2 linked regions of the Homo sapiens genome follow. The protein of the gene in region 2 interacts with the protein of the main gene of each other region in a pairwise test. Each region holds a gene or a part of one and is shown on either strand. Other genes may lie near its edges.

Region 1 (3,918 bases), on a different chromosome or scaffold from region 2:
AGAAGCTTCAAGGACTGACTTGCCAACAGGAAAGCTATGATTCTTTTGTTTCCTTTTGAGGTGTTGGGGGGTGAGCTGGGTGGGATGGGCACTCATTACTGAATTTGAGAAATGTCGGATCATAACTTCATTCAAAAGACTAGAAGGAAGAAACACTAAATGTTAACTGCCATTACCTCAAAGTGGCAGGATCCTGAATACATATTCTCTTTCAGTTTGAATCTTCTAAATATTGTGTGTGTGTGTGTGTGTGTGTGTGTGTGTGTGTGTTTTAAGAAACAGGGTCTCTCGTTCTGTCACCCAGGCTAGAGTGCAGTGGCGTGATCATAGCTCACGGCAGCCTTGAACTCCTAGGCTTAAGCTATCCTCCCACCTCAGCCTCCCGAGTAGCCAGGACTAAAGGTGTGTACCACTATGCCCGGCTAATTTTTTTTTTTCTTTTTTTTTTTTTTTGAGACGGAGTCTCACTCTGTGACCCAGGCTGGAGCAATGGTGTAGTCTTGGCTCACTGCAACCTCTGCCTCCTGGGTTCAAGTGATTCTCCCACGTCAGCCTCCCAAGTAGCTGAGACTACAGGCATGTGCCGCCACACCCAGCTAATTTTTGTATTTTTAGTAGAGATGGGGTTTCACCATATTGGCCAGGCTAGTCTCGAACTCCTGACCTCGTAATCTGCCTGCCTTGGCCCCCCAAAGTGCTGGGATTACAGGCGTGAGCCACCGTGCCCGGCTAATTTATTACCTTTTAAGAGATGGGGTCTCGCTATGTTGCCCAGGCTGGTCTTGATCTCCTAGCCTCAAGCAATCCTCCTGCCTCAGCCTCCCAAAGTTCTGGGATTGCAAGTGTGAGTCACCGTACCCAGACTCAATCTTCTAAATATTCTATAATAAATACTGTTACTTCCGTATCACTTAAGAAAAGGTTTAGGTGGGTCAGTAATGTGACACAAATACACAACATGTACAGAAAGAAAGTGAGGATGCTCTCATTTCCTGCCACTGAAAAGCTGAATTCTATTTATTCGACATTCTGTCCTGCTCATTGCCATATGGCTCACAGCCATCCCAGCCCTGCTTAAAAGCTCCTAAGGCTTCTACCAGACCTAGGAGAGGTCGGCAATAGCTCCCTGTCATGGCCCACAGGGTTTTCAGGACTCAGAAGCCCTGCCAGTCTCCCTGACTGCATCACCATCCACTTCCCCTCCTCCCTCCTGGGCTTTGGCCACACTGGACTTGCTATTCTTCAGGATCATCTTGTCAATGTCTGCAAGGAAATCAGCTGGGACTGACAGGGACTGCACTGAATCTGTGGATCGCTTTGGGGAGTGCTGCTCTCTTAACAAACAACGTTGTCTGCTAGTCAAAGAGCCTTGCAGACCTTTCCATCTATTTAGCTTCCTTATTTGAATAATGTTTTCTGTTTTCAGTGTTAACGTTTGCACTTCTTTTATTAAGTTTATTCATAAGTATTTAATGCTTCCTGCCATTTTTGACCATGATGTAGCTGAAGAATTTTGTATCTGCCTGGATGCTTTCCCCAAACATTTCCACGTTTGCTCTTCTTAAAACGCACATCTATGGCTGGGCGCAGTGGCTCATGCTTGTAATCCCAGCACTTTGGGAGGCCGAGGCGGGTGGATCACTTGAGGTCAGGAGTTCGAGACCAGCCTGGCCAACATGGCAAAACCCCGCCTCTACTACAAATACAAAAATTAGCCAGGTATAGTGGTGCACACCTGTAATCCCAGCTACTAGGGAGGCTGAGGCAGGAGAATCACTTGAACCTGGGAGGTGGAGGTTGCAGTAAGACAGGATCACGCCACTGCACTCCAGCCTGAGGGACAGAATGAGACTGTCTCAATTAAAAAAAAAAATGCAAGTCTCTGTTTAATAGCCAGCTCCTCAGAGCACACCTTCCCTGGTCACCCTCAGCCCCTGCTTTATTTCCTTTATATTGTTTAGCATCAACCAAGAGCACAATTATTTTCCTACTTGTTTACTGTTTGTCATCCCTCATTTATGAGCCCAACGAGAGCGGAGATTTTGCACACCTTCCTTGGTCACCCTCAGCCCCTGCTTTATTTCCTTTATATTGTTTAGCATCAACCAAGAGCACAATTATTTTCCTACTTGTTTACTATCTGTCATCCCTCATTTATGAGCCCAGTGAGAGTGGAGATTTTGCCTGTCTTGTTCACAGCTACAGCCCTGGCCCCTGGCCCCTAGAACAGTAGCTGGCACACAATGAGCACTTATAAACACGAGCAAACTGCGACAACATTAGCAAAAAGCAATTTTTTAAAAAGTCTGTATCAGCGTTTAAATTTTAGAGACAAAAAGATGCATCAACAGCCCCTAAAAATCAACAGCAACACATTTTCCATGCCACTTTCACTCAACATTGTTTTTCTGACATCTCTGTTGATCTCTGTTGATCTAGTTCGTTGAATTTCACTGATGTATATATGTAATTGTTCTGTGGTTGAGTTATTCCAGTCTGAGGGGCCTAGCTGGGTTCCTGTTACTGTTTCACCCACCAAGCGCATTGCAACAGGTACAAGAGTGGCTGTAGTACAACAAAGTCACAGAGTAGGGCCTGTCTTCAACCTGATATTGTCAGACCACTCTCCAAGGAGATCAACCAGTTTACACTTCCCCAGCAGTGAAGGAGCCTGCTCCATTCCATGAGATTTGTGCCAACACTTGATTTCCTAAGGCATATTAATATGGTCCAAAAAGACAGATGTGAAATGATATCTCTATTATTTTAAATGGTATCTCCCTGAAACAAAGCATCTTTCCGCTTTTTTAATCAGCCATTTAGGCCCAATCTTAACTGAACTGCCTGAATCCTCTGGTAAGTTACTAATAGGGTGTTAGTCTATTTCTTATTGATGTTTAGAAATTCCTTTTGTGTTTTGGGTACTAAGCCTTTAACAGTTTTATATGTTACGTATAATTAATCCAAGTCTGGGTTTTCTTTAATATGGTTTATGGTATCTTTTGCCATATGAAAGGTTCTTGAGAAGCCAGGCACAGTGGCTCACGCCTGTAATCCCAGCACTTTGGGATGCCAAGGCAGGTGGATCACGAGGTCAGGAGTTCAAGACCAGCCTGGCCAATATGGTGAAACCCCGTCTCTATGAAAAATACAAAAAGTAGCTGGGCATGGTGGCATGTGCCTGTAGTCCCAGCTAGTTGGGAGGCTGAAGCAGGAGAATCAGTTGAACCCGGAGGGCGGAGGTGCAGCAAGTCGAGATCACACCACTGCACTTCAGCTTCGACGATAGAGCGAGACTCCATCTCAAAAGAAAACAAAAAGAAAAGAAAAAGAAAGGTTCTTGATATTTTTAATAGTATTAAGAAATAATTCACATACCATACAATTCACCCATTTAAAGTATACAATTCAATGATTTTTGGTATATTCACTGATTTGAACAACAACCCTCACTATCAATTTTCAAATGTTTTCACTGTCCTATAAAGAAAGCCCAACCTATAACAGATACATAAAAAATAAAAAGAAATTAAAACATACCACCAGAGAAAAATCACCTTCACTAAAATGAAGACAGGAAGGAAGGAAAGAAAGAAGACAAGACCACAAAACAACCAAAAAACAACTAACAAAATGGCAGGAGTAAATCCTTACTTATCAGTAACAACACTGAATGTAAATGGACTAAACTCTCCAATCAAAAGACACAGTGGCTGAATGAATAAAAAAACCAGATCCAACGATGTGTTGCCTACAAGAAACACACCCTACCTATAAAGACACACATCAAATGGAAATAAAGAAATAACCGGGCGCAGTGGCTCACACCTGTAATCTCAGCATTTTGGGAGGCTGAGGTGGGCAGATCACCTGAGGTCAGGAGTTCGAGACCAGCCTGACCAACAGTCAGTTTCTTTA
Region 2 (3,918 bases):
AGTGGGCCCAGGACCAGCAGCATCAACAACAGCTGGGTGCTTGTTAGAAATGCAAAATCTCTGGACCTCTTGAGTCAGAGTCCGCATTTAACAAGATTTACATGCGCTTTTAAGTTGGCGATGCCCTTGATCTAGAATACCACGGTGGGGCAGGCCTGAATCTCCTAGAATCTGCACAGTGCCTGACATTTGGGCTCCCTAAATGACTGCATCTGCGTGAGAATGAAACAGATTCTGACGGTCAAGCTCTAATACAGTCAGTCATCTGGGAGGTTTTACCCTTGACTATACTTTGTAAATACTGTGGTATGAAAATTCTGCCCTAAGGGATCCAGATGCGGGAACCACAGCCCTTAAGGGATCCAGAAGCCAGAACTGATACCTATTTTTAGGCAATCTTGGTTGCTCTCCTGTCCTCTCTCTTTTTTTTTTTTTAAATTTTAGGCTCTGCCTGAGAGAATCCTGCCCTCTCTCCAAGGAAGCCAGAGATGACTCTTCACATTCTCCCTTGCTCTGCACACAGCTGTCTTGTGCTACCACGGCCTTGGCTCCCCTACCTTCCATAACTTCACACCCTTTCCAGCAGCTGCAGAAGGGTCCCAAATAAAGAGCATGGCCAGGAGGCCTTTGGGACATGCCCTAGGAAGGGAATGGTAGCAGCTGTCCTCACATTCCAGCTTCTTGAGCAGGCCCCAGGACACACAGCTGGGAGGAGGTGGCAAAGGGATCAATAAGAGCCTTTACAGGGGATCAAGTGTCACGCTCTGGCCCTCCACAGATCTAGAGAGGACAGCAGAGGCAAGAATGTCTCCAGGGTATTCATCATGGGTGATGGCACTGAGGCTCATCCTTTCCAATTCAGGCCAAGGGATGAGCTGAAAACCTCCACCACAGACCCCTGGCATATCCACCCCCATCTTCCCACCACGTGCTGCACTGGAACCCACTAGCAATGGAATGTGGCAGCTTGGCTAACTGCTGCAGGGCAACAGCATATGGCTGATTCTCAGCCCCGCCCCTGCCAAGATGTCCGAACACAACCTTTCTAAAGCTGGGGGTGAGGGGGCTGGAGGGATAGGTGTTAATCAATACAGGACTGGCGAAATAAAATTATGGTCTGTGTATCACAGAATATGATGGAGCTGTAAGAAAATCAGGGTGTTGTTCTCTTTATGTATTGATATGGAATGATCTCAAAGATAAACTTAAATGAAAAATGCAGGGTGCAGACAGTGTGTACAGTATACTACATGTGTGTAAAAAAGAGGAAGGAAATAAGAAAAATATATGTTTACTTTTATAAATATAGAATAGGTTTGAAGGACACACAAGAAAGGGATAATACTGATGGTCTGTGAAGGAGAGAAACAGATGGCTGTGAAGAAGAGGACAGAAAAGAAGACTTTTCACTGAGGTTTCTCTATGAACCTTAAAACATTTTTGAACTATGTGACTATTCAAAAATCAAACCTATAAAAATTTAAAATGTAATAATAAGGGTGGATCTAGCTGTAAAGGGATAGCATAAGGGAGCCTTGTGGTGATGAAACAGTTTTCTGTATTTTGGTTATAGTGGTGGTCACACAAATCTCCACTTGTGATAAAAACTGCATAGAACGAACACACACGCACACACACACACGAGTGCATGTAAAACTGGTTCAATCTGAATAAGCACTGCAGATTGCATCAATGCTAATTTCCTGATTTTGATACTGTCCTAAAGTTATGCAAAATGTTATTTTCCCATGGAGGGAAATTGGGTAATGGTATATGGGATTTCTGAACCTTTTTTTTGAGAACTTCTTACAAATCTGTAATGATTTCAAAATAAAAAGCTTTTACAATGTAATAATACAAGAAGGGAGAAAGTGTCATGGTATTATGGAATGGCAAGGCTACACAGGATCCGACAGATTATCTAGTGCAGTGGTTTTGACAGTTTTTCAAGCTATGGGATGCTTTATGCAAATGAATTTCTTGAGAAAGCTCAACATGCAAAACAGAGCCATGTGGAGCTCTGTGGCCAGTGGGGTTGGCATGCAAACCCCACAGGCTCAGCATCCTACAACCACCTGCATGAAAACTACCACCCCTGGTCCATTCCTCTCAATTTACAACTGTATCGCTGAGGATCAGGGTAGTAAAAGAACAGGGTCAAAGTCACACACCATGTTGGTGACTCTACTGGAACTACCATCTGTTCTCCTGCACCCTTGTCTGGTGTTTATCAGCTGCCCTGACACAGAGAAAGAGGAGGTTGAGTGTCTAAGAGGCCAAGTCTGGCCTCCTCTCCCATCCCTGCAGGGCATCCTGGCTCCTTCCCATGCCCCTGCTCCTGCCACTTTGTACCTGGAGCAGTGCAGCTGTCATATAGAAGATGATGAAGATGAGTGTGAGGGTGGTGTGCCCGCCCTGCATACAGCTGATGGTGTAGAGGAACACCAGGTGTCCTGGGACCACGAGGAGGAAGAGGACCCGGGCTGAGCGAGAATTCACATCTGGAATTGGGGAAAAGAGGGTGTAAAGAGGAGGGGAGGAGAAGACCTGGCCCCAGAAGGCCTTTCAAAGTCAGGAGGGACGGCACCATACCCCAGGGCAACAGACAGATGAATGTCTCTACTTCTGCATCCTGTGGTCTCCAACCCCTAGGGTGCTCCAGGAAAAGACAGCCCTCCTGCCTGGGCTCTGCCCTTCAGAACAGCTGGCACAGCCCAGCAGAGAAGGAGAACCTGTGGATCTGGGGCCCCAGCTGTCTCTTAAGTGAAGCTCACTGACAGTAGGCCCACTCCCCCCAGGGCTGGGAGGCTGGGAATCTGCCGTTACCAGGGCTGAAGAAGGTGGTACAAGGACTGGGACAGCGGCGAGGAGCTTGCTCAGAGTTCTCTCCGGGCATTCCATTCATGTGCAGGAAGGTGGAGATGCGGCTGGCCTGCACTGCCACCAGATTGCCCCCAACACCTGCAGAGACACATACGGGCTTAGACACAGACAGAGGTCAGAGGGAGGAGTGGGAACAAAATGATCTTCTCACTCTTTGTCTTCTATCTATAGAGGCACTGTCCTCTGTCTTAATTTAGGGTCTATGTGGGCATCACCCATTCACCAGTCCCCAAAAGAAGAGTAAGGCACTAAGAAGGAAGACAAAGACCCCTGCTTCCAGTGCATCTTCCAGCCTCCCCCATCCTCCCCTCTATGGAGATGCAGCAGTTCCATGTTCCCCTGGCAAAGCTGTGACAGTGCCGGAAAGGATACGTGCAGATCTGCAGACTCAGAGAGCCTGACTTCTCCACCAGTAGAGCATGGGCACCTGCCTTCCTACACAGCTGAGGGGATGAAGCCCTGCCTTGCCTCACCGCCTCACCTCCTCTCCAATGCTCTGAGCAGACCCAGGCATCCTATGGTCATATGCTGATTCTGGTAACCAGTTTCAAGGATCAGGTTTGAGCTCCAAACTCTGGAATCTGGTATCTCCGCCAGGACCTGTGCTGATTTCTCTGTTGCCCTCACATCCCAACCTGCTCCCTGCTCTTCTCAGCCTTGCTCTGAGCTCTGGGGGACTGGTCTCCACAGACTGCATTACCCAGTCTCCCTTGCTGGCTGCTTCCACTGTTTGTTCAGTGGGAGGCAACAGCAGGCAACCAGAGGGCAGGTGGAGAGAGAGATCAGGTATTTCTTTCCCAATCCCTCCCTGCTTTTCAGCATTGGCTTCCCCATGTTGGGGGCAAAGACAGAGCTTTCACTGGACTCCTATAATGCTATTCCCTCGTTACTATGGTTTGAATATAGTTTGTCCCCAACAAAACTCATGTTGTGGCTTGGTCCCCAAATGTGGTGGTGGGAGGTGGTGCCTTTAAGAGTGAATAGGTTATTAAGATGGATTAATGTCTTTCTTGGGAAAGGTATAGTTCCCATGAG

The links.
Region 1: the proteins of SLC41A1 (region 2) and TMEM248 interact in binary tests that used the Homo sapiens proteins (3 or more experiments, as listed by UniProt).

What each region holds. Positions count from the first base shown.
Region 1 is NC_000007.14:66,937,914-66,941,831, reverse strand, and holds part of TMEM248 (transmembrane protein 248), read right to left. Parts: intron 1-3,918.
Region 2 is NC_000001.11:205,792,518-205,796,435, forward strand, and holds part of SLC41A1 (solute carrier family 41 member 1), read right to left. Parts: intron 2,962-3,918; coding exon 2,827-2,961; intron 2,502-2,826; coding exon 2,353-2,501; intron 1-2,352. UniProt on the Homo sapiens protein: Na(+)/Mg(2+) ion exchanger that acts as a predominant Mg(2+) efflux system at the plasma membrane.